Homo sapiens: one gene and its partners. The protein of the gene in region 1 interacts with the protein of each later gene in a biochemical or structural test. Each region holds a gene or a part of one and is shown in the gene's direction. Other genes may lie near its edges.

What was found.
Region 2: the proteins of ITK (region 1) and KHDRBS1 form a complex in vitro, tested with the Homo sapiens proteins (4 studies listed by BioGRID, with this or other methods).
Region 3: the proteins of ITK (region 1) and GRB2 form a complex in vitro, tested with the Homo sapiens proteins (2 studies listed by BioGRID).
Region 4: the proteins of ITK (region 1) and ERBB3 form a complex in vitro, tested with the Homo sapiens proteins (2 studies listed by BioGRID and IntAct, with this or other methods).

Annotation. Positions count from the first base shown.
Region 1 is NC_000005.10:157,239,836-157,246,863, forward strand, and holds part of ITK (tyrosine-protein kinase ITK/TSK), read left to right. Parts: intron 1-226; coding exon 227-360; intron 361-1,810; coding exon 1,811-1,885; intron 1,886-3,787; coding exon 3,788-3,959; intron 3,960-4,426; coding exon 4,427-4,643; intron 4,644-5,890; coding exon 5,891-5,955; intron 5,956-6,045; coding exon 6,046-6,164; intron 6,165-7,028. UniProt on the Homo sapiens protein: Tyrosine kinase that plays an essential role in regulation of the adaptive immune response. Regulates the development, function and differentiation of conventional T-cells and nonconventional NKT-cells.
Region 2 is NC_000001.11:32,037,855-32,044,392, forward strand, and holds the end of KHDRBS1 (KH domain-containing, RNA-binding, signal transduction-associated protein 1), read left to right. Parts: coding exon 1-182; exon of another isoform or gene 183-265; intron 266-697; coding exon 698-765; intron 766-1,660; coding exon 1,661-1,719; intron 1,720-4,672; coding exon 4,673-4,770; 3' UTR 4,771-6,023; downstream 6,024-6,538. UniProt on the Homo sapiens protein: Recruited and tyrosine phosphorylated by several receptor systems, for example the T-cell, leptin and insulin receptors. Once phosphorylated, functions as an adapter protein in signal transduction cascades by binding to SH2 and SH3 domain-containing proteins.
Region 3 is NC_000017.11:75,395,651-75,402,678, reverse strand, and holds part of GRB2 (growth factor receptor-bound protein 2), read left to right. Parts: intron 1-7,028. UniProt on the Homo sapiens protein: Non-enzymatic adapter protein that plays a pivotal role in precisely regulated signaling cascades from cell surface receptors to cellular responses, including signaling transduction and gene expression.
Region 4 is NC_000012.12:56,097,161-56,104,029, forward strand, and holds the end of ERBB3 (receptor tyrosine-protein kinase erbB-3 isoform 1 precursor), read left to right. Parts: coding exon 1-70; intron 71-624; coding exon 625-780; intron 781-1,339; coding exon 1,340-1,415; intron 1,416-1,598; coding exon 1,599-1,745; intron 1,746-2,487; coding exon 2,488-2,585; intron 2,586-2,677; coding exon 2,678-2,869; intron 2,870-3,013; coding exon 3,014-3,085; intron 3,086-3,900; coding exon 3,901-4,201; intron 4,202-4,368; coding exon 4,369-4,895; 3' UTR 4,896-6,345; downstream 6,346-6,869. UniProt on the Homo sapiens protein: Tyrosine-protein kinase that plays an essential role as cell surface receptor for neuregulins.

The DNA of each region.
Region 1 (7,028 bases):
ACAGCATTGCTGTCCACTGGGTCCAGACACAACCTCAGAGTCCTTTTTAACACAGTACTGCAGCACCCAGGCCCAATCTGTCAAGACAGACTTATAAGTTGAACAATATCTGCCACCTTGTGAGAGGTTATAAGACAAAGATAATAAGAACTTAATACTCGTAGACTTTTTTGTGTCTCAACATTGCTTCTTAATAATCATTACATTTGTGTTTCATTTGTTTAAGTGAGAACAATCCCTGTATAAAGCATTATCACATCAAGGAAACAAATGACAATCCTAAGCGATACTATGTGGCTGAAAAGTATGTGTTCGATTCCATCCCTCTTCTCATCAACTATCACCAACATAATGGAGGAGGTAAGCTCTAGAGCAGGGGTGGACCCGGGCCGCCCAGCAGGAGGTGAGCAGCAGGTGAGCAAGCATTACTGCCTGAGCTCTGCCTTCTGTCAGATCAGCGTCATTAGATTCTCATAAGAGTGCAAGCCCTATTGTGAACAGCACTTGTGGGATCTAGGTTGTGTGCTCCTTATAAGAATCAAATGCCTGATGATCTGAGATGGAACAGTTTCATCCTGAAAGCAACCCCCTGCCACATCCCTCCATGGATAAACTGTCTTCCACAAAGCCGATCCCTGGTGCCAAAAAGGTTGGGGACTGCTGCTCTAGAGGACAAAGCCAGAGGGCACCTGGGTTAGACTTTTTTGAATTGCTATCAAGGAATACCTGAGGCTGGGTAATTTATAAAGAAAAGAGGTTTAATTGGTCCATGGTTGTATAGGAAGCATGGTGCCGGCATCTTCTTGGCTTTTAGGGAGCCCTCAGGAAGCTTTCAGTCATGGCAGAAGGCAAAAGGGGAGCAGGAGTATCACATGGCAGGAGCAGGAGCGAGGAGGGAGAAGATGCCACAGACATTTAAACAACCAGGTCTTGCATGAACTCAGAGTGATAACTCATTTATTATCACAAGGACAGTGACAGCACCAAGGCATTTGTGATGGATCCCACCTAATGACCCAAACACCACCTCCCATCCCACCAGGCCCCACCTCCAACATAGGGCTTTTCTTTTCTTTTCTTTCTTTTCCTTTCTTTTCTTTTCTTTCTTTTTTTTTTTTTTGAGACAGAGTTTCGCTCTGTTGCCCAGGCTGGAGTGCAGTGGCTCAATCTTGGCTCACTGCAACCTCCACCTCCCAGGTTCAAGCAATTCTCCTGCCTCAGCCTCCTGATTAGCTGGGATTACAGGCATGTGCCACCACATCCCGCTAATTTTGGTATTTTTTGTAGAGACAGGGTTTCACCGCATTGGCCAGGCTGGTCTTGAACTCCTGACCTCAGGTAATCTGCCCGCCTCAGCCTCCCATACTGCTGGGATTACAGGTGTAAGCCACAGTGCCCAGCCAGGGATTACATTTCAACATGAGATTTGGAGGGGACAAACATCCAAACTATATCAGCACCCACACAGGAGACTTAATGAAAACTGGCAAAAGCTCGCCCTGGCTTCTTTTTGACTATAAATAATAAATAAATATACAAATAGAAAAATATGACAAATATTTAATTATATTATATATCTTCTATTAGCAAGCTATCTTGTGGAAATAATGGAATTTTACCACTTGCCCATCTGTGCTTATGATGTTTTCAAGGAGGATATGATATCAATAATTAGGCTTTGGGATTTGTTTTCCAGAATAAAATTAGCTTTTGCGTCTGATGATGATTATTATTTTTTTTAGTGATTTAAGTTAGATGGTTGCTAGAGCAAAGCCCTAACCACTGCTTCTTGGCTTTTCAATCAACCCAGGCCTGGTGACTCGACTCCGGTATCCAGTTTGTTTTGGGAGGCAGAAAGCCCCAGTTACAGCAGGGCTGAGATACGGTGAGCAGTACAATCAGGAATGTAAACTCATGTCCCTAAAGGTCTGGGGCAAATTCTGAATAAACTGGCCATGAGCCTACCTGTTCCTCAGACTACAAATCACCATTAAAACAAGTGTATTATATATCTAGAGATGATGGCACTAATGAATATTTACATTGTGTGTAAGAGAAGTACATATACAAGCACATTTCTCTAGGTCAAACCAGTGGCCATTGGTTTTAGTGAAGAGTTCATTAATGAAGTGTTTATTAAGCACCTACTTTGTACAGAGCACCCTACTAAATGCTATTAGAAAAATATTAGAAAACCATGCCTTAGCACTGTGTTTCCACCTATCTTCTAGAACTTTTATATCATCTAGTTGGTTGAGTAGCAGACTATTGCCAGAACTGCAAGTTGAGAGCATCTAGAAGTGTTTCTCTGCATAAGAGAGTGTTAAAATTCTTTGGAATACCTTTAGGCGTGGCATGATCTCCAGTGCCGCAGCCCCTACTATGTTTTCTTGCCCTACGGAATTGCTTCACTCACTTGGGATTACCTGCCTGGACTCTGAAGGCATTTGGCTTTGCATCCCTTGGTCCCAACTGTGTGCTGCCTGTGGAGAAGGCTGGTCTAATTTTCATTTCTTATCTCCTAGCTTGGTGGTTCTCAAATTTCAGTGTGCATCAAAGTCTTCTAGAATGCTTATTAAAAATGTTGACTCCTGGCTCCTATCCAAACACTCACCAAAACACAATCCTTGATAGGGTCCTGGAGTCTACTTTTTTTTCTGGCATGATCTCCCTCTGTCACCCAGGCTGGAGATGCAGTGGCGTAATCATGGCTCACTGCTGCCTTGACCTCCTGGGCTCAAGCGATCCTCCCACCTCAGCCTCCCAAGTAGCTACTATGCCTGGCTAATTTTTAAAAATTTTTTGTAGAGACAGGGTCTCACTATGTTGCCCTGGCTGGTCTTAAACTCCTGGGCTCAGGCAATCCTCCTGCCTCAGCCTCCCAAAGTGTTGGGATTACAGGCATGAGCCACTGTGCCCAGCTGAGTCTACATTTTAAACAAGCATGCTAGGTGATTTTGATACAAGTGGTCAGAGGGCAATACTTTGAGAACCACTGCCACGCATGGGCTTCTTTATCCCTAACCAGCACCGTGTCCGGCACACAGTAGGTGCTCAATACTGCCTGCTGTTGAGTCTCTGCCTCAAAGCAGTGGAAATCTGGCTGTTTAGGTACCAGACCAAGCACTGGGGAAAGAGTGCCTCTTTAGCCTCCTTATGAAAATAAGGGTATTCTAATAAATGTAGAATCTTGATGTGTCCGTGCTGGATGGGATTTCAGATATTACCTGGTCAGCCTACTCATTTTGTTGGTGAGGAAATTGAGCCTCGGAATCTCGTATTTGTTTGTTAAACATTTCTTGAGAGCCTCCCATGTGCCAGACACTGTGCTAGCTTGTGCCTCTGCACAAATTCTCTTTAAATCTTTCTCTTTAACTGCCCCTCTGCCCCAGTAAGGCCTAATAGGGTTATGTGTATATAGCAGGTGCTCTTAATAGATGAATGAATGAAAGAATGATCAGCTCAATGAAATTTACTTAGTGTGAAAAATGACATAGAAAAATGGGACATTGCAAGAACCCTTTCTTTAATATTTTGATTAATATGGTTTCTTTAATATCTTCATTAATGCCACTCTCCTTCTTTCCATGTTACCTTCCCACACATATTTTCATAGTTTTCTAGCATATCCTATGTTATTATGTGGGAAAAAGATAATTTATTTGCCATCTTTGAATTATATTAACAATAGGCTAAAATTCTAGTTAGGGCTTTATAGTCCCCTGGTATCCCAATACCTTATATCTACTGCTTGCTGACCCCAGAGAACTCTCTCTCTCTCTTCCAGGGAAATGGGTGATCGACCCCTCAGAGCTCACTTTTGTGCAAGAGATTGGCAGTGGGCAATTTGGGTTGGTGCATCTGGGCTACTGGCTCAACAAGGACAAGGTGGCTATCAAAACCATTCGGGAAGGGGCTATGTCAGAAGAGGACTTCATAGAGGAGGCTGAAGTAATGATGTGAGTGCTCAGAACAAGGATATGCAGAAACTCTGGGGGGAACATCGGTTCAGTGTTCTTGAAATGCCATTCAAACGCCAGGGGGTACTATCTCCCTGCGCAAACTCCCAGCAGTGGCTTCCTATTGCACAGAGAATACAATCAAACTCTTCACAGTGGTCTCCAAGGCCCACCATAATCTGATCATGCCCACCTCCCCCTTCTCAGCTCCTACCCATCTCTCCTCCAGTCCATGACATGCCAGCCACACTGGCCTCTGCTCATCTTCACACACACAGCTGACTCCTTGCCATTTTTCAGGTCTCAGCTCCAATGACATGTTTTTGTTTTGGGGAGGGAATGAATATTATTTTCATCCAAACCATAAATTAGACAAAATGACCATTGGCTATTTTGGTACCATAATATTTTCGGCATTTTTGGGAGACTGAGTTTAGGCCATCTCACCCCTTGTCTTTTTCCTCCAGGAAACTCTCTCATCCCAAACTGGTGCAGCTGTATGGGGTGTGCCTGGAGCAGGCCCCCATCTGCCTGGTGTTTGAGTTCATGGAGCACGGCTGCCTGTCAGATTATCTACGCACCCAGCGGGGACTTTTTGCTGCAGAGACCCTGCTGGGCATGTGTCTGGATGTGTGTGAGGGCATGGCCTACCTGGAAGAGGCATGTGTCATCCACAGAGACTTGGTATGAGCATGCAGGGTGAACACCCACAGGTCCAGGGTAAAGGGACAGTTCTCACTGAAATGACTGGGAACGCATTAATAAATAATACATTACAGATAATCTCCTTTCCTTTCTCAACTTCTCCCTTCCTTCACCTACTTTGGGTGGTCCTAGTGGAAAGGGCTTCATGAGGACTTACTTCTGGGCTCTGATCCCAGCCCAAACTCTTTCACCTCCTGCATTTCAGTTTATATTCTTCCAAAATGGAGATAACTGCCACTCCTTCTTAACCTCTCTGTGACTCAATTTCCTCCTGGTAAATTGAGGAAACTGAGTTTGTCTGAAGGTATTATTCAAGGGTCTACCAGAATCACACTGGGGAAGCCCTTAAGCTACTCTCAGAATCTCTGGTGGCTGGGACTCAGGAATATTCATTTTAACACATTCCCCGTATGATTTGTATGCACATTAAAATTTGAGATATGCAGCTGGGTGCGGTGGCTCATGCCTGTACTCCCAGCACTTTGGGAGGCCGAGGTGGGCGAATCACGAGGTCAGGAGTTCGAGACCACCCTGGCCAACATGGTGAAACCCCATCTCTACTGAAAATTCAAAAAATTAGCTGAGCTTACTGGCGGGCACCTGTAACCCTAGCTACTTGGGAGGCTGAGGCAGGAGAATCACTTGAACCCAGGAGGCAGAGGTTGCAGTGAGCTGAGATCAAGCCACTACACTCCAGCCTGGGTGACACAGTAAGACTCCATCTAAAAAAAAAAAAAAAAAAAAAATTGAGACACACTGGAGTGTTATCTCCAATGGCTTTTTCAATGCAACAGTCTATAATACTAATTAGGGGTCAGGTACTCTCCCTATTGAAGAACAGTTTTAAGAGGATTAACAACATCAAAACATTCTTAATTTAGTCAACTGGGAGATGCTTTCTTCCTGTTATCCCTGATGTTAACATTTCCTATCACATCAGGTTGCATTAGAGCCTATCTTTGGTTAGACAACACCAAGGATTTCTAATTAGAACTCAAGAATGAAGATAAACTTACTCATCTTGATAGTGGATCTTACACATTCAACTTTCCAGTTAACTTCCAGCGGCATTTGTGAGGCTTAATTAACATTTGTAAAGCTCCATGATGCCCTTGTATGACAGCACTGCAGTAAAGCAAAGGACTGTGATTATAGGAGACTCCTTAACTACTGATGACTCATCAACAGTTTTCCTCTCCGCCTTTGTTTGCCTGTCTCCTCTCCAGGCTGCCAGAAATTGTTTGGTGGGAGAAAACCAAGTCATCAAGGTGTCTGACTTTGGGATGACAAGGTAAAAGAGGGATGTGGTGCCGGTGAAGTCTCAGGAATGGGACTGAGGCCCCCGGAACATTCTGACCTTCTCCCTCCACTCTCTTCCCAGGTTCGTTCTGGATGATCAGTACACCAGTTCCACAGGCACCAAATTCCCGGTGAAGTGGGCATCCCCAGAGGTTTTCTCTTTCAGTCGCTATAGCAGCAAGTCCGATGTGTGGTCATTTGGTGAGTGTCATGCTGGGCCCCACTGCCCCATGATCTGGGCTTCAGGCCAGCTGTTTCCTTTATCAAATGCAGACAACCCTACCCACACTGAACCCTGTATCATATCATGAGGGTGTCCCACTGGAGGGTTGTGTAAGAAAGGCCCCGAAAACTATGAAAGGGCCTTCATCATTTTGTTTGTTTTTAGAGATACTGGACATGGTGGTGGGAGTTAATTAAAAGTGGAAACAAGAGTTCTGGTGCCAGCTGCTGTGAAGTCAAAAGCTGGAGAAGTCAGGAGATTCAAATATGAGCCCCTTGAAGGCAGGGACCATGTTTTGTCCAACACTACATTTCCATACTTATCTCTCAATAAGTATTAATATTTATTCATTCATTCAACAACAATTAACTGATCATCTATTCTATGCCAAGGGCTAATCTAGGTGCTGAGGATGCAGTGGTTCATAGAACAGAAAAGACTTCTGTTCTTTTGGAACTAAATTTGAGATGGGAGGGGAGACAGAAAATCACAAAAGATCATAATAACAGTCATAAACAATAATAATAATAAACAAGCTAAGGGATAGAAGATAAAGCCAGGCAATCATAAGTAGGTGCTATGAATAAAATAAAACAGTAATGGGGCAGAGTGACTAGGATAGAGAGAGGGTCTGCTTTGAATAGTGTGGTGTGGGAAGGCCTTTCTCAGAAGGTAATTCTTCAGCAGAGACTTGAATGATAGGAGGGAGCTGTCACCATTTGAAGAGCCAGGGAACAGTGTCCCTGACAGAGGGACCAGCAAGTGCAAAAACTTGGTGCATCCAAAGAACAAGGGGTACTGACTTATTGGGAGAACAACAGGCAATGAAGCTGGTAGGCCAT
Region 2 (6,538 bases), on another chromosome or scaffold:
CTCGGGGGGCTTTGGTACGTGGTACACCAGTAAGGGGAGCCATCACCAGAGGTGCCACTGTGACTCGAGGCGTGCCACCCCCACCTACTGTGAGGGGTGCTCCAGCACCAAGAGCACGGACAGCGGGCATCCAGAGGATACCTTTGCCTCCACCTCCTGCACCAGAAACATATGAAGAATATGTAAGAAATTTGAACAATGTGCCATTTCCCAGTACCTAGAAGGCTGCTAAAGGAAGTTGAATGACAGGGCCTCGGTCCTTTATGTAGGTGTCATGGACTGCCTGTAAGATTTGCAATCTGCCCTCTTCTCTTGCAGTGAATGTTGAACTATTAGAAGATTTTTCCATTTTAGGCAGGGTTTTACTATACGCCTGTAGATTAAACAAGAAATAAAATGTACTTTAATGTAGTATTTTATAATGAATTTCTTACTACTAGTACTGATAATACTAAAGCTCGATTTTGTACTTTACTTCCTGCCCACACTTCTTCTGTGGCATATCATATTTGTTTGGGTTTTCTTTGTTTAGTAACCCTTTCTCTTTTGACTATTCTACAGTAGGCATTAACATTTTGGAGGGAAATGTCATGTCCTTTTAATTCAGAAGCCTACTTACTCCCATGGGATGTAATTACCTTTCCTACTCTCTATGATTTTGATCTTTTATTTCATTTTTTTGTTGTTGTTGTTCTAGGGATATGATGATACATACGCAGAACAAAGTTACGAAGGCTACGAAGGCTATTACAGCCAGAGTCAAGGGTGAGTCAGGCAGTATAAGCACTGTTTTTTGTCCTGAGGATGGATGGAGGGAGTTGGAGGAACAGAGAGATTTAGACAGTACAACCCTAAGGAGCAGAATGGTTCGCCTTTTGAGGGTATCTCCTCTGCAACCCCCACAGTCCTGACTGGTCTTGAACTCTTGAGCTCAAGCAGTCCTCCCACTTTAGCTCTCTCTAGTAGCTGGGGTTACAGGTGCGTGCCACCATGCAATGCTTTCCTCTGCGTTTGACATCTGTGAAGCACACACTTGGATTTGTAAATCTGGATAACTGTGAACCTTAAATTATAATTTAGAACCTGAGAGTAACAAATGAAAAATTTCCAAGCTGTGACTACATGGAAACAAGGAGAAATGCCTTTATGTTATTTTGATTTATTATTTTAAAATATCAAAACCACATTAAAGCTCCATAAAATTTTACAAGAAACTTGAATTCCATTACCATAACTTAGGTTCTTTTCTGCATTTCTCTTTAAGACCATTTCCTTGTGTGTCCATATATATAGCTTACCTGTGAATTGATTGAAAAAGAGTTCCAGAATTCTACAGCAGTGATAAAACAGTTCTTTTTTCCTTCTGGTGAGCCCTATGAATACATGTATATATATGCTATATTAAAAGGGTCAATTTAGGATTGTGCTTTTTCACTTTATATTCTGTGGTATCCATTTTTCTTTGCAATAGTTGTCAATTATTTTATAAGTACATAGTCTATACATATTTTGGAAATACTTTACGGTTTAGGGATGGGGCAGAATGAGTATTTTCCTGTATTAATACACTTAGTAAAATGACTGACTTATGGAAGTATTTGAGAGAAAGTTGAAACATAGTTACTCTGTAGCTTCCTAACACTCTGCCTTTGGCTTTCAGGGACTCAGAATATTATGACTATGGACATGGGGAGGTTCAAGATTCTTATGAAGCTTATGGTATGTCTTTATCTCTGTGGTGGGGCAGAATGTACAAGTAAGTGCCTGGGAGAATGCTGGTGACTAAAGTATTGAGAGTCAGACAAACACACCTACGGATAAACCTTTAGAAGGCCAAGATTTTGCTAGATGTGACAGTAAGAGTTCTGCTCTTGCTTAAATTTTGCGGTACATGGTAGAAAGAGGGACTGCTAAAGTGAGGTGGGGTATCGTTACTCTTGGAAGGGTAGTGTTTGTCTTAAACAAGGGCTCAAGACCAGCTTGGCCCTGGTTGGAGCAGCAGACTTATAAGCTAATGTTATTTTTTTTCTACTTTAGGCAGGGAAATAGCTAGACCTGGGTTGTATTTCTGGGCCTTTGCTGCCGATATCTAGGCCACTTTGGTAGATAACAAGAACTTAATCGTACACAACTGTACTCATCTACCCCATTTCATTAAAAAAAAAATTTAGATCTCATTGAAAAGAATGTCATTGTAAAGGAAATGTCAGCTGAAAGGGACCTAGATGGCAAGCAGCTAGCCAGACCAGGTTGCGGGGCAAGAATAGTGCCTATTAGGGCCGGGCGTGGTGGCTCATGCCTGTAATCCCAACACTTTGCGAGGCCGAGGCAGGCGGATCACCTGTGGTCAGGAGTTCGAGACCAGCCTGGCCAAGATGGTGAAACCCTGTCTCTACTAAAAATACAAAAAAATTAGCCAGGTGTGGTGGTGGGCGCCTTTAATCTCAGCTACTTGGGAGGCTGAGGCATGAGAATCACTTGAACCTGGGAGGCGGAGGTTGCAACGAGCTGAGACCGTGCCATTGCACTCCAGCCTGGGCAACAAAAGTCCGTCTCAAAAAAAAAAAATAGTGCCTATTAGAATCAGATTAGAGGCTGTAGGGGCTAGAGCCAATAATTCAGGACAGTACTGGCACCAAGCTCCTTGTTGGCTTGAAGACATCAACACAGTCCTTGATCCCAAGAGAGCTATGGAGGCTGCAACAGCAGCAGGACAAGGCTGCCTTCCCTGAGGTTTGGTTAAAAACACATCGCTCAAGTGTGTCCTCAAGAGCCAGTTATGGCCCTGTGTTAATAGGCCTCACTGGGAATACTATGTGGCAGTGGATGCAGCGAGAGCTACCTTTTCAGTATAAGGTATTTTCAGCATACCTGAGGGACTTCCAGAGAGTCCTTGGCAGGGGCTCAGCGATTGACAGTTCACGCTAAGATACTGGTTGACAGTCTCCCCTTATCCCTAGCTGAAAAAGAGGAGCCCCTTAGGGCCTCCCAGAGACAGACAAGCTGAGCCCAACTCAGCACAGTATGAAGTAGCCAATCAGCTGCTTGCCCAAGGAAACTGTTTTTACCAGTTTTAGCGAAATAGCACTGGACAGTTGCCAATCACTAACACTGTGTGTGATTGCACCCAAGTATTTCCCTCCATCAGTGAGGCAGTACAGTGGGGCCTCTGTATGTGTTTGACTAAATTGCATTTCTGTTTTGCTGGAGAAAAGACCAAACTGAAAGAGGCAGGCTTCTCTTTGTGCTCCTGATACGACGTTGCCACAGTTAATCCGTTCTGATCTCTGCTTTGATTAACAGAATTAGAGAAATAAACTGTCCAGGATGATCTGTATACGTCAGGAAAAAAAGAAAAAGAAACTGTCTTGTTGATACCCAGAAGCCACTTGGAAAGTGATGGACATGTGTGTTATACTAGGGGTATAATTAGGGTTCTGTGTGACTTTAGATCTGTATAGGAGTTTGAGGCCTATAGAGATGGAGGCAGATACTTGTGAATACAGGCAGCTGGAAAAATACTTCAGGGATGAACTAGCGTGTGTAAGGTGTGGGAAGAATAAATTTAACGCAATTTATTTTCATAAGAGGTCACCTCTAGAATTATGTGATCATATTCCTCAGGCTTTTCCCTGTCACAAAGGAGAACCATTTGAGGATGTGAACCACATTGTCTGGCTTCTGGCTTCTCTCACCTGTTGACTTAAGAAAGGAGATAAGGAATTATCCTTTTTTTTTTTTTTTTTTTTTTTTGAGATGGAGTCTGGCTCTGTTGTCCAGGCTGGAGTGGAGTGGCACAATCTCAGCTCACTGCAACCTCTGCCTCCCAGGTTCAAGCACTTCTCCTGCCTCAGCCTCCTGAGTAGCTGGGATTACAGGCATGCGCCACCACGCCTGGCTAATTTTTGTATTTTTAGTAGAGATGGGGTTTCACCCTGTTGGTCAGGCTGGTCTCGAACTCCTGACCTTGTGATCTGCCTGCCTTGGCCTCCCAAAGTGCTGGGATTACGGGCGTGAGCCACCGCATGCAGCCTTGGAATTATCTTAAACAGTGCTGTCAGTGCAACATTTGATTGCACATCCCTCTACCAGAGAGAGCAGTATCAGCTCTGCTGGTGGAGGGCCCCATGGAAAGTGGCCCTTGCTTGGTTTTCCCAGGGAGCTAGAGGACACTTCTCCGTAAGGAAACGTGACTTGCTGTTGCATGGAAGTGGGGCTGGCTGCCTGCTTCCAATCTGAAAGACTTCCAGAAGTCTTCCCACCTTACCTGAGGGTGCCTGCCAAATTGTTTTGGGAACAGGAAAGGCCATTGCAGACTCACTAAGATTAATGAGTTCCTCACTATCTCAAGCAAGGTGTTGGGTATCTCCAGGTTTGGGGACTGGCGTACAGATCACATTTGTCTATGAAGAACCTCGTTGTGGGAGATTACTCCAGAGTCAATGGCAGCCTTTTTAGATTTGTTCCCTTCTGTCCTTCCACTCAAAACTGAAAAATTGCCCAGGCTGCCCAAGAGGGCCAAGCCAAGTAGAGAGCAAGGAACACCAGGGGAAGTGTCAAGACATTAGAAGAAACTCAGTGTTTTTGGTGATCTTTACTATGTGACCTATCCCTGCTTATCCCTAAGTGCTGTCGCCACATGGTTTATAAACTGTCTTTGTTTTCCCCACAGGCCAGGACGACTGGAATGGGACCAGGCCGTCGCTGAAGGCCCCTCCTGCTAGGCCAGTGAAGGGAGCATACAGAGAGCACCCATATGGACGTTATTAAAAACAAACATGAGGGGAAAATATCAGTTATGAGCAAAGTTGTTACTGATTTCTTGTATCTCCCAGGATTCCTGTTGCTTTACCCACAACAGACAAGTAATTGTCTAAGTGTTTTTCTTCGTGGTCCCCTTCTTCTCCCCACCTTATTCCATTCTTAACTCTGCATTCTGGCTTCTGTATGTAGTATTTTAAAATGAGTTAAAATAGATTTAGGAATATTGAATTAATTTTTTAAGTGTGTAGATGCTTTTTTCTTTGTTGTTTAAATATAAACAGAAGTGTACCTTTTATAATAAAAAAAAGAAGTTGAGTAAAAAAAAAAAACACACAAACCTGTTAGTTTCAAAAATGACATTGCTTGCTTAAAGGTTCTGAAGTAAAGGCTTGTTAAGTTTCTCTTAGTTTTGATTTGAGGCATCCCGTAAAGTTGTAGTTGCAGAATCCCAAACTAGGCTACATTTCAAAATTCAGGGCTGTTTAAGATTTAAAATCACAAACATTAACGGCAGTAGGCACCACCATGTAAAAGTGAGCTCAGACGTCTCTAAAAAATGTTTCCTTTATAAAAGCACATGGCGGTTGAATCTTAAGGTTAAATTTTAATATGAAAGATCCTCATGAATTAAATAGTTGATGCAATTTTTAACGTTAATTGATATAAAAAAAAAAACAACAAAATTAGGCTTGTAAAACTGACTTTTTCATTACGTGGGTTTTGAAATCTAGCCCCAGACATACTGTGTTGAGAGATACTTAGAGGGAGGGAGTAGGTTTTGAAGAGGTTGATGGTGGTGGGGAGGGAAGGCCTCCTGAATTGAGTTTGATGCAGAGCTTTTTAGCCATGAAGAATCTTTCAGTCATAGTACTAATAATTAAATTTTCAGTATTTAAAAAGACAAAGTATTTTGTCCATTTGAGATTCTGCACTCCATGAAAAGTTCACTTGGACGCTGGGGCCAAAAGCTGTTGATTTTCTTAAGTTGACGGTTGTCAATATATCGAACTGTTCCCAAGTTAGTCAAGTATGTCTCAACACTAGCATGATATAAAAAGGGACACTGCAGCTGAATGAAAAAGGAATCAAAATCCACTTTGTACATAAGTTAAAGTCCTAATTGGATTTGTACCGTCCTCCCATTTTGTTCTCGGAAGATTAAATGCTACATGTGTAAGTCTGCCTAAATAGGTAGCTTAAACTTATGTCAAAATGTCTGCAGCAGTTTGTCAATAAAGTTTAGTCCTTTTTTAATCAAAGTAAATGTGATGAATTGTCATTTTTTTGGGTGGACCATAAAATAGTTTTCTCTTTCAAATAAACTTAAATTAACTCTAAAGTTAATGGGCTTGTTAAAAGTTGGAAACATTCTTAAAAGTGGTGGGGGGGATTTTATTTTAAGTTTACCAAAAAAAAGTTGATGGAGTTGTTAAGTTTTAGTTTAAAAATAACCAAAGCTTTTTCACCCCCTGGAAGTTGTTGGAAGCTGTTGTATCCAATCCTATCAAAAATTCTAATTTATGGAGAGTTTTCAACTCAACTGAGCTGAAACTTGGATTGGTTTCCATAGATAGGTCTCAGTATTTAAAAGTGCAAGCCAGCCTGGTTTGCACCTTCTGTAGAACCCCTAGGTGGCTCTAAAGTGTGACACCAAATAATTTCTGTGAGCTCAGAAGGGGACAGCATCTGCCTTTAGGCATGACAGTTCAGCCAACTCTGGGTGCCCTTGAGGGTTTCTCTTTCAATCCCAGAAATGCTGATAACTCAGCTGGGC
Region 3 (7,028 bases), on another chromosome or scaffold:
CATAAAAATCACTGGGAGATCTTTTTAAAATTAGGTTCTGGTAGAACTCCAGGATGTACCCCACAGTGAATCAGTCTCTGAATGGGTGGATTTTGATACAGATGGTCTAAGGATCAAAACTGTTGTTACCAAATGCAGCCATAAATAATAAGACTGCTGTGTGGCTTTAAGTAATTCAACTTAAAATTACATTTTTCTGTGTATACACAAAGTCAGTATTTAGAATAGCCTAATGGAATGAGTGACTATAAGCATGATTCATTTTTACATGTGTAAATTTTTTAGCATTCTTAATACTGTGATGTGGAGTGATTTAACTTGAAATTTATACTTAATAGGGTCATTAATTTGCCTACCAGAGAATTCTTCTGAGTCTGTAGACTCAGACGAAAGATTTTTCAGCTTTACAGTGGTGTGAAAGCAATAGCGCTCAGTAAAAACTATACTTCCAGTACCCATATAACTGTTTTGTTTTTCACTCTCAGTACCATAGTCAGTAAATTACAGGAGATATTCATCACTTTGTTATAAAATGGGCTTTGTGTTAGATGATTTTGCTTAACTGTAGGCTAATGTGTTTGGAGCACATTTAAGGTAAGGTAGGCTAGGCTAAGCTGTGGTGTTTGGTAGGTTAGGTGTATTAAAATGCATTTCCATGTAACAATATTTTCAACTGATGATGGTTTCATCAGGATATCTGCCTATGCAGATGGAAGCTCCACATTTACTCTTAGAACATGTAGGCTAGTATTTGAAAAGAGACTGAAAATACTAGTTAAGGTCTCTGGCTTATACTACATTATAATAATAAAATCATCACAGCCCACACTATAGTGGATAATTAGTTAGCTCAGTCTTTTGGAGAGAGCCAGAGACTTCTGCCAAGCATTTTACAACCATTATCTCTTTTAATTATCAAAATGACTTTATAAGGTAGTTGGCTGTTATTATTCCCATTTTCCAGTTAAGGGATACTAGGGATTACAGAGTATAAGTTACTTCTCCAGTGTCCCCTCATTAGTAAGTGGAAAGTGACATTTGAATCCAAGTCTAACTCCAGAGCGTCAGTAAGCTTTTTGGTTTGTGTTGTAACTACAAAAGTAACACATGCCTATTGTAAAAATAATGAAAATACAATTGAGGTGTATCATGCAGAAAGTAAAAGTGTTCTGTGATCTCGCTAGCAGAGATAACCATTGTTAGCCTTTTTTTTTTTTTTTTTTTTTTGAGACGGAGTCTCGCTCTGTCGCCCAGGCCGGACTGCGGACTGCAGTGGCGCAATCTCGGCTCACTGCAAGCTCCGCTTCCCGGGTTCACGCCATTCTCCTGCCTCAGCCTCCCGAGTAGCTGGGACTACAGGCGCCCGCCACCGCGCCCGGCTAATTTTTTGTATTTTTAGTAGAGACGGGGTTTCACCTTGTTAGCCAGGATGGTCTCGATCTCCTGACCTCGTGATCCACCCGCCTCGGCCTCCCAAAGTGCTGGGATTACAGGCGTGAGCCACTGCGCCCGGCCTAGCCTTTTTTTTTAAGCACATACTGATGTATTATTTTGCCTTACAGAAATAGGATAAACTATAATTTTTCTGCAGCTTTAAAAATTTGAGGAGAATGGCTTGAACCCGGGAGGTGGAGGTTGCTTTGAGCAGAGATCATACCACTGCACTCTAGCCTGGGCGACAGAGCAAGACTCCGTCTCAAAAAAAAAAAAAAATTGATATATCCTGGTATTTATGTAGATACTCCATACACAAGCTCATGGATATTGATCAAGGGTGTGGGTGTATATGTGTATGTTGCACATTGTATTTTGTCTCATTGTTTCAGTGAGATAAATCTGGGAAGTGGAATTGCTTGGTCAAGAGTATGTATTGGTCAGGCACAGTAGCTCACGCCTGTCACCCTGGAACTTTGGGAGGCCGAGGTGGGCGGATCACTTGAGGTTGGAGACCAGCCTGGCCAACATGGTGAAACCTCGTCTTTATTTGAAAATACAAACATTAAAAACACACACAAACACACAAAAAAAGAAAATTCAAAAATTAGGTGGTGGTGACACGCCTGGAATCCCAGCTACTTGGGAGGCTGAGGCAAGGAGAATCGCTTGAACGCAGGAGGTGGAGGTTACAGTGAGATGAGATCACACCACTGCATTCCAGCCTGGGCAACAGAGCGAGACTCTGTCTCAGAAAGAAAAAAGGAGCATGAGGCTGGGTATGGTGGTATGCATGTAATCCCAGCACTTTGGGAGGCCAAGGCTGGTGGATTGCCTGAAGTCAGGAGTTTGAGACCAGCCTGGCCAACCTAGTGAAAGCCCATCTCTACTAACAGTACAAAAATTAGCCAGGCATGGTGGTGCACGCCTATAGTCCCAGTTACTTGGGAGGCTGAGGCAGGGGAATTGCTGGAACTCAGGAGGCGGAGATTGCAGTGAGCTGAGATCGTGCCATTGCACTTCAGCCTGGGTGACAGAGCAAGACTCCATCTCAAAAAAAGGAGTATGTATTTACAAAAATTAGCCAGGTGTGGTGGCACACACCTGTAGTCCCAGCTACTTGGGAAGCTGAGGCGGGAGGATGGCCTGAGCCTGGGAGGTCAAGGCTGCAGTGAGCCAAGATGGCACCCACTGCACTCCAGACTGGGTGACAGAGCAAGACCCTGTCTCAAAAAAAAAAAGAGTATGTATTAATATTTCAAAATTGTCGGTCAGGGCCGGGCACGGTGGCTCATGCCTGTAATCCCAGCACTTTGGGAGGCTGAGGCAGGCGGATCACGAGGTCAGGAGATCGAGACCATCCTGGCTAACATGGTGAAACCATGTCTCTACTAAAAATACAAAAAAATAAGCCGGGTGTGGTGGTGGGCACCTATAGTCCCAGCCACTCGGGAGGCTGAGGCAGGAGAATGGCATGAACCTGGGAGACGGAGCTTGCAGCGAGCCAAGATTGCGTCACTACACCAGCCTGGGCGACAGAGCGAGACTCTGTCTCAAAAAAATAAATAAATAATTGTTGGTCGGGCGCGGTGGCTCACGGCCTGTAATCCCAGCACTTTGGGAGGCCAAGGCGGGTGGATCACGAGGTCAGGAGTTCAAGACCAGCCTGACCAACATGGTGAAACCCTGCCTCTACTAAAAATACAAAAGTTAGTCAGTCGTGGTGGTGGGGGCATGTAATCCCAGCTACTTGGGAGGCTGAGGCAGGAGAATGGCTTGAATCCAGGAGACAGAGGTTGTGGTGAGCCAAGATCGTGCCACTGCATTCCAGCCTGGGTGACAAAGCGAGACTCCATCTCAAAAAAAAAAAAAAAAAAGAAAAGATTGTCAAGGCCAGGTGTGGTGGCTCACCCCTGTAATCCCAGCACTTGGAAAGGCTGAGATGGGGAGGATCACGTGAGTCCAGGAGTTTGAGATCAGCTTGGGCAACATGGTGAGTCCTGGTCACCACACACACACACACACAAAAATTAGCCAGGCATGGTGGTGTGCACCTGTAGTCCCAGCTACTTGGGAGGCTAAGGCAGGAGGATGGCTTGAGCCAAGGAGTTTGAGGCTGAAGTGAACCATGATTGCTCCACTGCACTTCAGCCTGGGCAATAGAGCGAGACTCTGTCTCAAATAATAAAAGTAAATAGGCTGGGCGCAGTGGCTCACGCCTGTAATCCCAGCACTTTGGGAGGGCAAAGTGGGCGGATCACCTGAGGTCGGGAGTTCAAGACCATCCTGGGCAACATGGCGAAATCCTGTCTCTATTAAAAATAGAAAAATCAGCTGGTCATGGTTACAGGCACCTGTAATCCCAGCTACTTGGGAGGCTGAGGCAGGAGAATCGCTTGAACCCAGGAGGTGGAGGTTGCAGTGAGCGGAGATCACGCCACTGCACTCCAGCCTGAGGGATAGAGCAAGACTCTGTCTCCAAAAAATAAATAAAAATAAATAAAAGTTGTCAATAGATTACCAAAGAACTCACCAAAAAGATTGAGCTGAGCTCATTAATTCCTTGCTGTAGTGTGGGTTCTGTGGTGATTTTATTATTATAATGTAACACCAAGCCACATTGTCAGTTAGTAACTTCTCAAAATGTTGAGTCAGTGGACACCGGGTAGGGTAAAAAGTCTTTGTGCCTGGTGCGGTGGCTCATACCTGTAATCCCAGCACTTTGGGAGGCCAAGGCAGGCAGATCTGTTGAGCTTAGGAGTTTGAGACCAGCCTGGGCAGCATAGGGAGACCCCATCTCTACAAAAAAAAATGAGTAGGCTATGGTGGCTGGTGCCTGTAGTCCCCACTAAGGAGGCTGAGGTGAGAGGATCCCTTGAGCCCAGGAGGCGGAGGTTGCAGTAAACCAAGATCACGCCACTGCCCTCCAGCCTTTGCTACAGAGTGAGACCCTTTCTGAAAAATAAATAAATAAATAAAAGTGTGTTTACTCAAAGTATTGCAGATTGGATTTTATAAATATTTTTAAAATTTGCCAATTAGTATATGAAAACTCTGATTGTTTTAATTTGCATTTCTTTTCATATGTTTTAAATAGAGTAACATTTAAAATTTCTTTTGAAGGCTGGGTGCAGTGGCTCATGCCTGTAATCCCAGCACTTTGGGAGGCTGAGGTGGGAGTTTGAGACCAGCCTGGCCAACATGGCGAAACCCCATCTCTACTAAAAATGCAAAAGTTAGCCAGGCTTGGTGGCGCGCACCTGTAGTCCCAGCTACTTGGGAGGTCGAGGCAGGAGAATTGCTTGATCCTAGGAGGCGGAGGTTGCAGTGACCTGAGATCGTGACACTGCAGTCCAGCCTGGGCGACAGAGCTAGATGCTGTCTCAAAAAATAAATAAATAAATAAATAAATAAATAAATAAATAAATTTTGAGTGATTATTACATGTCGGGCTCTATCCAGAGCACTTAATGTATGTTATATATGTTGTCTAATTTAATCCTCAGTGGATCTTATAAGGTAGATATTCTCATTTTACAGATGAGAAAACTGGAGCTTGTTTCACAACTTTGCCCACAACTGTAGCTGTAAGTGTGAGGGGCCTGCCTCTAGAGACCATGAAGATTCAACACTAAGCTATACTGGACTGTTGTCATGTATTTTATTTTCTGTGAATTTTGGGAAGAAGAGAGTTAAATGGAAGAAAGAAAAAAAATCTTGCAAATACCTTTAGGATAGTAGTTTTTTTGGATACAGTAGACATTGTTTGAAATGAATGATTAAAGCTGTACTTACCTTTCTTAAAATTCACTGCTTGGGATGGGCTGGTAACAGTTTCGAGGTTACTCTCATTAGGCTTCAGTGTTAAGTACACTATACCCCATTTTCTTGGGAAGTGAACAGCAACATCTACTCTGTTAAAATCATTATACATTGTGTCTGCTTTCAGATTTCTTCCTTTTAGTAATTAGTGTTGTGTATGTGTTAGATTTTTTTTTGTCTTTACTGAAACACACCCTTTGGAATTCCTTTAGCGAATATGCTCTTTTGGGTGGATAACCTAATAAGCTTTCCTCTTTGAGTTTTCTGTTTTTTTACTCAGCACAGCCATGGAAGTAGGGATTTAATTTTCTGTCAAACTCTGCATCTCACAAAGCAATAGTTACTCAAAACACGACTTTCAAGAAGGTTATTCTTTTTAAGCTTTCAGCAGATGAGCTGAGTAGCAGCAGGAAAGCAGGTATTGAGAACTGTCTTGGTTTTTGTACTGCTGTTGAGTAGTAACATTGCAGCTGTCTTAAATCCTGAATGACACAGAAGCTTATGGCTGGTCGTACTACATAGCACCTTGAAAGTGACAGGGCTTTTCATTTCTATCTGATTTCTGTTTTTCAAAAATAAAACTCCTTATTCTTTTCCTATCATTGTAAATATTCTTCAGCTTCCTATCACTAATACATAGTCTCGGCATTAGAGACCAGTTAAAATAAATAGGCTGAGGAAAATCTTGATAGTAGGAGAGATTTTGGAGCATTCATTAAAAGTAAAAATAGGGCTGGGCGTGGTGGCTCACTCTCCCCTGTATTCCTAGCACTTTGGGAGGCCGAGGCAGGCAGATTGCTTGAGGCCAGGAGTTTGAGACCAGCCTGGGTCTTAAAAGGTAGATATTATTCTCATTTTACAGATGACGAAACTGGAGCTTGTTTGAAAAGTTTGCCCAAAATTGTAGCAGTTAGCGTGAGGGGCCTGCCTCTAGAGACCATGCAAATTCAACACTAAGCTATACTGGACTGGTCTCACATAGTGAGACCCTGTCTCTACAAAAAATAGAAAAAGTAGCCGGGCATAGTGGCCCACACCTGTAGTTCCAGCTACTTGGGAAGCTGAGGCATGAGGATTACTTGAGCCAAGGAGATCAAGGATGCAGTAAGCCATGACCATGCCACTGCACTCGTGCCTGGACAACAGTGCAAGACCCTGTCTCAAAAAAAAAGAGAAAAGAAAAAGTAAAAGTAGATACACAGGGAACTAGGCAAGTAAAAAATAGAACATTAAGCAGTTGCTAATGCTGGGAAAAATCTAAGGATTGTACAAAAAAGTATGATTGGGTCAGGCACAGCGGCCGATGCCTGTAATCCCAGCACTTGGGGAGGCCAAAGTGGGCGGATCACTTGAGGCCAGGAGTTCAAGACCAGCCTGGCCAACATGGTGAAATCCCGTCTCTACTAAAAATATAAAAAGTAGCCAGGCTTGTTGGCACATGCCTGTAGTCCCAGCTACAGGCCGAGGTAGGAGGATCGCTTGAACCTGGGAGGTGGAGGTTGCAATGAGCCGAGATCATGCCACTGCACTCTAGCCTGGGCAATCTTAGAGAACTCTATCTCAAAAAAGAAAAAAAAAAAAACACAAAAAGTATGATTGGTTTTAGTGCATTATTTAAATTATCAGTGAGTAGTATTTCATAACATACTACTGATTAAACCAGAATATGTGATATTACTGGTATAGGTCGGGGGAAACTAAATCTTCACCTTTCAGGCAATAGATAATGGCTGGAATAAACTGAGAAAGCAGTAAAAGCACATTCTTTAGAA
Region 4 (6,869 bases), on another chromosome or scaffold:
TCATGTGAGACAACACCGGGGGGCACTGGGGCCACAGCTGCTGCTCAACTGGGGAGTACAAATTGCCAAGGTGAGAGAAGCCTGGAGGAATTCTGTGATAAGAACTGCTTGTCTGGGGGCCAGCCAGGAAAAAGTGAGAAGGTTGAAGTTCTGAGAGGTGAGGTCCCCAACCCCCGGGCTGCAGACTGGTACCAGTCCATGGCCTGTTAGGAACCAGGCCACAGAGCATGTGAGCGGCAGGCAAGCGAGTGAAGCTTCATCTGTATTTACAGTCAGTCCCCATCACTTGCATTACCGCCCGAGTTCCGCCTCCTGTCAGATCAGGGGCAGCATTAGATTCTCTTAGGAGCTTGACTTCTATTGTGAACTGTGCATGTGAAGGATCTAGGTTGTGCACTCCTTATGAGAATCTAACTAATGCCTGATGATCTGAGGTGGAAAAATTTCATCCCAAAACCAACCCTCCCCTTCCCCTGGAAAAACTGTCTTCCACAAAACCAGTCCCTGGTGCCAAAAAAGGTTGGGGACCACTGCTGAGAGGTACCTTCAAGATTTGGGGGAATTCCAGATCTCAGTGACTGATTCCCCCAACCTTAAGAATACTTTCTTCCCCTATACCTACAGGGAATGTACTACCTTGAGGAACATGGTATGGTGCATAGAAACCTGGCTGCCCGAAACGTGCTACTCAAGTCACCCAGTCAGGTTCAGGTGGCAGATTTTGGTGTGGCTGACCTGCTGCCTCCTGATGATAAGCAGCTGCTATACAGTGAGGCCAAGGTGAGGAGACACAAAGGGTAAGGAGGCGGGGGTGGAGTGAAGCATGGGGATAGGGAGCAGCCAGTGGTCTCTTCCAGAGGCAAGCAGATGCTTCATGGTAAGTTCAAGGAGAGAAGGCTGCAGATGCCAGATATTTTAGTTCAGAGGGCAACAAATAAAATAATGATCAAGAACTTGGGACTGGCCGGGCGCGGTGGCTCACGCCTGTAATCCCAACACTTCGGGAGGCCAAGGCGGGTGGATCACAAGGTCAGGAGATCAAGACCATCCTGGCTAGCACGGTGAAACCCCGTCTCTACTAAATATACAAAAAAAAAAAAAATTAGCCAGGCGTGGCGGCATGCATCTGTACTCCCAGCTACTCGGGAGGCTGAGGCAGGAGAATGGCGTGAACCCAGGAGGCGGAGCTTGCAGTGGGCCGAGATCGCACCACTGCACTCCAGTCTGGGCGACAGAGCGAGACTCCGTCTCAAAAAAAAAAAAAAAAGAATTTGGGACTTGGAAATCCTAAGAAAATTTGTGGAAATAAACTTGTGATACCTCTATCTTTAATCCGCAGACTCCAATTAAGTGGATGGCCCTTGAGAGTATCCACTTTGGGAAATACACACACCAGAGTGATGTCTGGAGCTATGGTCAGTGCATCTGGATGCCCTCTCTACCATCACTGGCCCCAGTTTCAAATTTACCTTTTGAGACCCCCTCTTAGAATCTCTAAGCACTTCAGATTTTTGTGTTAGATCAGGTTCTGCCTTCCCTTCACTTCATGCCCATGTCTACTATTTTGCCAGTGACTAGTCCATGTCTTCCTGCAACAGGTGTGACAGTTTGGGAGTTGATGACCTTCGGGGCAGAGCCCTATGCAGGGCTACGATTGGCTGAAGTACCAGACCTGCTAGAGAAGGGGGAGCGGTTGGCACAGCCCCAGATCTGCACAATTGATGTCTACATGGTGATGGTCAAGTGTGAGTTACCTGCTGAGCCCAACCATTTTCTCTTTTTTTCTTTTTTTTTCTTTTTTTTTTTTTTTTGAGACAGAGTCTCACAATTGTCACCCAGGCTGGAGTGCAATGGTGCAATCAATCTTGGCTCACTACAACCTCCGCCTCTCGGGTTCAAGAGATTCTCCTGCTTCAGCCTCCGGAGTAGCTGGGATTACAGGCGCCCGCCACACCTGGATAACTGTTACACTTTTAGTAGAGATGGGGTTTCACCATGTTGGCCAGGCTGGTCTCAAACTCCTGACCTCAGGTGATCCGCCTGCCTCAGCTTCCCAAAGTGCTGGGATTACAGGTGTGAGCCATCATGCTCGGCCTGACTGCAGCCATTTTCTGACTTCCCTCTGTACTCCTCTTATGGCTCTATTCCTTTTTTTTTTATGGAGTCTCGCTCTGTTGCCCATACTGGAGTGCAGTAGCGTGACCTTGGCTCACCGTGACCTCCACGTTCCAGGTTTAAGTTCTTCTGTCTCAGCCTCCCAGATAGCTGGGACTTTAGGCGTGCACCACCACGCCCAGCTAATTTTTTTTTGTCTTTTTAGTAGAGATGGGGTTTCACTATGTTGGCCAGGCTGGTCTCAAAGTCCCGACCTCAGGTGATCCACCCGCCTTGGCCTCCCAAAGTGCTGGGATTATAGGTGTGAGCCACCGCGCCCGGCCATGGAATGTATTCTCTTTTATGTCTCTACCTCCTACATCTTATCTCCAGGTTGGATGATTGATGAGAACATTCGCCCAACCTTTAAAGAACTAGCCAATGAGTTCACCAGGATGGCCCGAGACCCACCACGGTATCTGGTCATAAAGGTGAGTAGGGAGTAGGAGGTGCTAAGGAAATTTAGAAAAAGGAGGAGTTGGCTGGAACCAGGATTCCCCCTAACAATCACCTATCGATATAGAGAGAGAGTGGGCCTGGAATAGCCCCTGGGCCAGAGCCCCATGGTCTGACAAACAAGAAGCTAGAGGAAGTAGAGCTGGAGCCAGAACTAGACCTAGACCTAGACTTGGAAGCAGAGGAGGACAACCTGGCAACCACCACACTGGGCTCCGCCCTCAGCCTACCAGTTGGAACACTTAATCGGCCACGTGGGGTAAGACAACTTCTAATTACCCAACACTTTGCACCCTGAGCCCTCACAAACCCTACAGATACCCAGATTAACTACTCAAAGGCCCCCATGGTGAATGTAGATTTCTCCCTTCATCTTAACCTTTTCCTTATTTTTTCATCCTAGAGCCAGAGCCTTTTAAGTCCATCATCTGGATACATGCCCATGAACCAGGGTAATCTTGGGGAGTCTTGCCAGGTAAGTTCTGTTGCTGAGAGGCTGGGTTTTAGGATCAGATTGATACGAGTAGTATGGAAGACATTAGAAACCTCTGAGGTTTAATCAGTGTCCTGCAAAAAAGAAGGCAGTGAGGGCCGGGCGAGTTGGCTCACACCTGTAATCCCAGCACTTTGGGAGGCCAGAGAGAGTGGATCACCTGAGGTTAGGAGTTTGAGACCAGCCTGGCCAACATGGTGAAACCCCGTCTCTACCCAAAATACAAAAATTAGCTGGGTGTGGTGGTGCACACCTGTAATCACAGCTACTCAGGAGGCTGAGACAGGAGAATCGCTTGAACCCGGGAGGCAGAGGTTGCAGTGAGCTGAGATTGTACCACTGCACTCCAGCCTGGGTGACAGAGCAAGACCCTGTCTCTTAAAAAAAAAAAAAAAAGGCCAGGTGCGGTGGCTCACGCCTGTAATCCTAGCACTTTGGGAGGCCGAGGTGGGCGGATCATGAGGTCAGGAGTTCGAGACCAGCCTGACCAACATGGCAAAACCCTGTCTGTACTAAAAATACAAAAACTAGCTGCACATGATGGCAGGTGCCTGTAATCCCAGCTACTCGGGAGGCTGAGGCAGGAGAATCACTTGAACAGGGAAGCAGAGGCTGCAGTGAGCCAAGATAATGCCACTGCACTCCAGCCTGGGCGACAAGAACAAGACTCCACCTCAAAAAAAAAAAAAAAAAAAAAAAAAGGCAGTGAACAACCCAATATCCTTCTAAACAAATCTCTCTTCTTTCCTCATCATGTAAATTTCCTTGCATTATTTTCTGTTTATTTTCTTCCTTAGGAGTCTGCAGTTTCTGGGAGCAGTGAACGGTGCCCCCGTCCAGTCTCTCTACACCCAATGCCACGGGGATGCCTGGCATCAGAGTCATCAGAGGGGCATGTAACAGGCTCTGAGGCTGAGCTCCAGGAGAAAGTGTCAATGTGTAGGAGCCGGAGCAGGAGCCGGAGCCCACGGCCACGCGGAGATAGCGCCTACCATTCCCAGCGCCACAGTCTGCTGACTCCTGTTACCCCACTCTCCCCACCCGGGTTAGAGGAAGAGGATGTCAACGGTTATGTCATGCCAGATACACACCTCAAAGGTGCCTGACTCTTCCTAGGGCTTTCCTCAATTTTTCCTCGAATTCTTTCCCCGGGCTCCTCTTTTTTCTTCTCTGATCATATGCCTCTCTGTCCTATTAATTTTTTCAAACTTTCCCCTACCCTCATGAAGTTCTTCACATACCTAGCCTTTCTTCTCAACCCCCAGGTACTCCCTCCTCCCGGGAAGGCACCCTTTCTTCAGTGGGTCTCAGTTCTGTCCTGGGTACTGAAGAAGAAGATGAAGATGAGGAGTATGAATACATGAACCGGAGGAGAAGGCACAGTCCACCTCATCCCCCTAGGCCAAGTTCCCTTGAGGAGCTGGGTTATGAGTACATGGATGTGGGGTCAGACCTCAGTGCCTCTCTGGGCAGCACACAGAGTTGCCCACTCCACCCTGTACCCATCATGCCCACTGCAGGCACAACTCCAGATGAAGACTATGAATATATGAATCGGCAACGAGATGGAGGTGGTCCTGGGGGTGATTATGCAGCCATGGGGGCCTGCCCAGCATCTGAGCAAGGGTATGAAGAGATGAGAGCTTTTCAGGGGCCTGGACATCAGGCCCCCCATGTCCATTATGCCCGCCTAAAAACTCTACGTAGCTTAGAGGCTACAGACTCTGCCTTTGATAACCCTGATTACTGGCATAGCAGGCTTTTCCCCAAGGCTAATGCCCAGAGAACGTAACTCCTGCTCCCTGTGGCACTCAGGGAGCATTTAATGGCAGCTAGTGCCTTTAGAGGGTACCGTCTTCTCCCTATTCCCTCTCTCTCCCAGGTCCCAGCCCCTTTTCCCCAGTCCCAGACAATTCCATTCAATCTTTGGAGGCTTTTAAACATTTTGACACAAAATTCTTATGGTATGTAGCCAGCTGTGCACTTTCTTCTCTTTCCCAACCCCAGGAAAGGTTTTCCTTATTTTGTGTGCTTTCCCAGTCCCATTCCTCAGCTTCTTCACAGGCACTCCTGGAGATATGAAGGATTACTCTCCATATCCCTTCCTCTCAGGCTCTTGACTACTTGGAACTAGGCTCTTATGTGTGCCTTTGTTTCCCATCAGACTGTCAAGAAGAGGAAAGGGAGGAAACCTAGCAGAGGAAAGTGTAATTTTGGTTTATGACTCTTAACCCCCTAGAAAGACAGAAGCTTAAAATCTGTGAAGAAAGAGGTTAGGAGTAGATATTGATTACTATCATAATTCAGCACTTAACTATGAGCCAGGCATCATACTAAACTTCACCTACATTATCTCACTTAGTCCTTTATCATCCTTAAAACAATTCTGTGACATACATATTATCTCATTTTACACAAAGGGAAGTCGGGCATGGTGGCTCATGCCTGTAATCTCAGCACTTTGGGAGGCTGAGGCAGAAGGATTACCTGAGGCAAGGAGTTTGAGACCAGCTTAGCCAACATAGTAAGACCCCCATCTCTTTAAAAAAAAAAAAAAAAAAAAAAAAAAAACTTTAGAACTGGGTGCAGTGGCTCATGCCTGTAATCCCAGCCAGCACTTTGGGAGGCTGAGATGGGAAGATCACTTGAGCCCAGAATTAGAGATAAGCCTATGGAAACATAGCAAGACACTGTCTCTACAGGGGAAAAAAAAAAAAGAAACTGAGCCTTAAAGAGATGAAATAAATTAAGCAGTAGATCCAGGATGCAAAATCCTCCCAATTCCTGTGCATGTGCTCTTATTGTAAGGTGCCAAGAAAAACTGATTTAAGTTACAGCCCTTGTTTAAGGGGCACTGTTTCTTGTTTTTGCACTGAATCAAGTCTAACCCCAACAGCCACATCCTCCTATACCTAGACATCTCATCTCAGGAAGTGGTGGTGGGGGTAGTCAGAAGGAAAAATAACTGGACATCTTTGTGTAAACCATAATCCACATGTGCCGTAAATGATCTTCACTCCTTATCCGAGGGCAAATTCACAAGGATCCCCAAGATCCACTTTTAGAAGCCATTCTCATCCAGCAGTGAGAAGCTTCCAGGTAGGACAGAAAAAAGATCCAGCTTCAGCTGCACACCTCTGTCCCCTTGGATGGGGAACTAAGGGAAAACGTCTGTTGTATCACTGAAGTTTTTTGTTTTGTTTTTATACGTGTCTGAATAAAAATGCCAAAGTTTTTTTTCAGCTTCCTGTCTGTCAAATGAAGACATTTCGTATGTTAGATAAGAGATCTGCTCCTCAGCAGTGGATACTCACCTTTCTGTGTTCTGACAGTGCTACTCTGTCCCATGCAGCTTTCTCTAGTCCTACTATTACTTCTATTTCTTTAGAACAACCATAGCGCATAGTCCTTTTCATTAAGGGTTTTAGTAGGAATCTACAAGGCAACCAATTGGGAATAACAAAAAGAACCTACGTGCTTTAGGACTTATAAAAAGCCCTATAAGCCCTCCTTCAGAGGCCAAACACTGAAACCTCCAGATGCTTCTGAATTCATTATCTTAGAAAAGTCATCAAATCTTTTTATTTTTTCACGGTAAGAACTCTCAACAAACATGTCTTTCTGAACACTTCCCTTAGGTGCTCCATCCAGGTGCCTGTTATTGGAACAATAAAGTCATGTTACTTCATTAGGAGTCCGGCCTCTAGATTGCGAGGCCTTTAAATGGATGATCCCTCCGGTGTCTGGCTGCCCAGTTAGCCCCCGT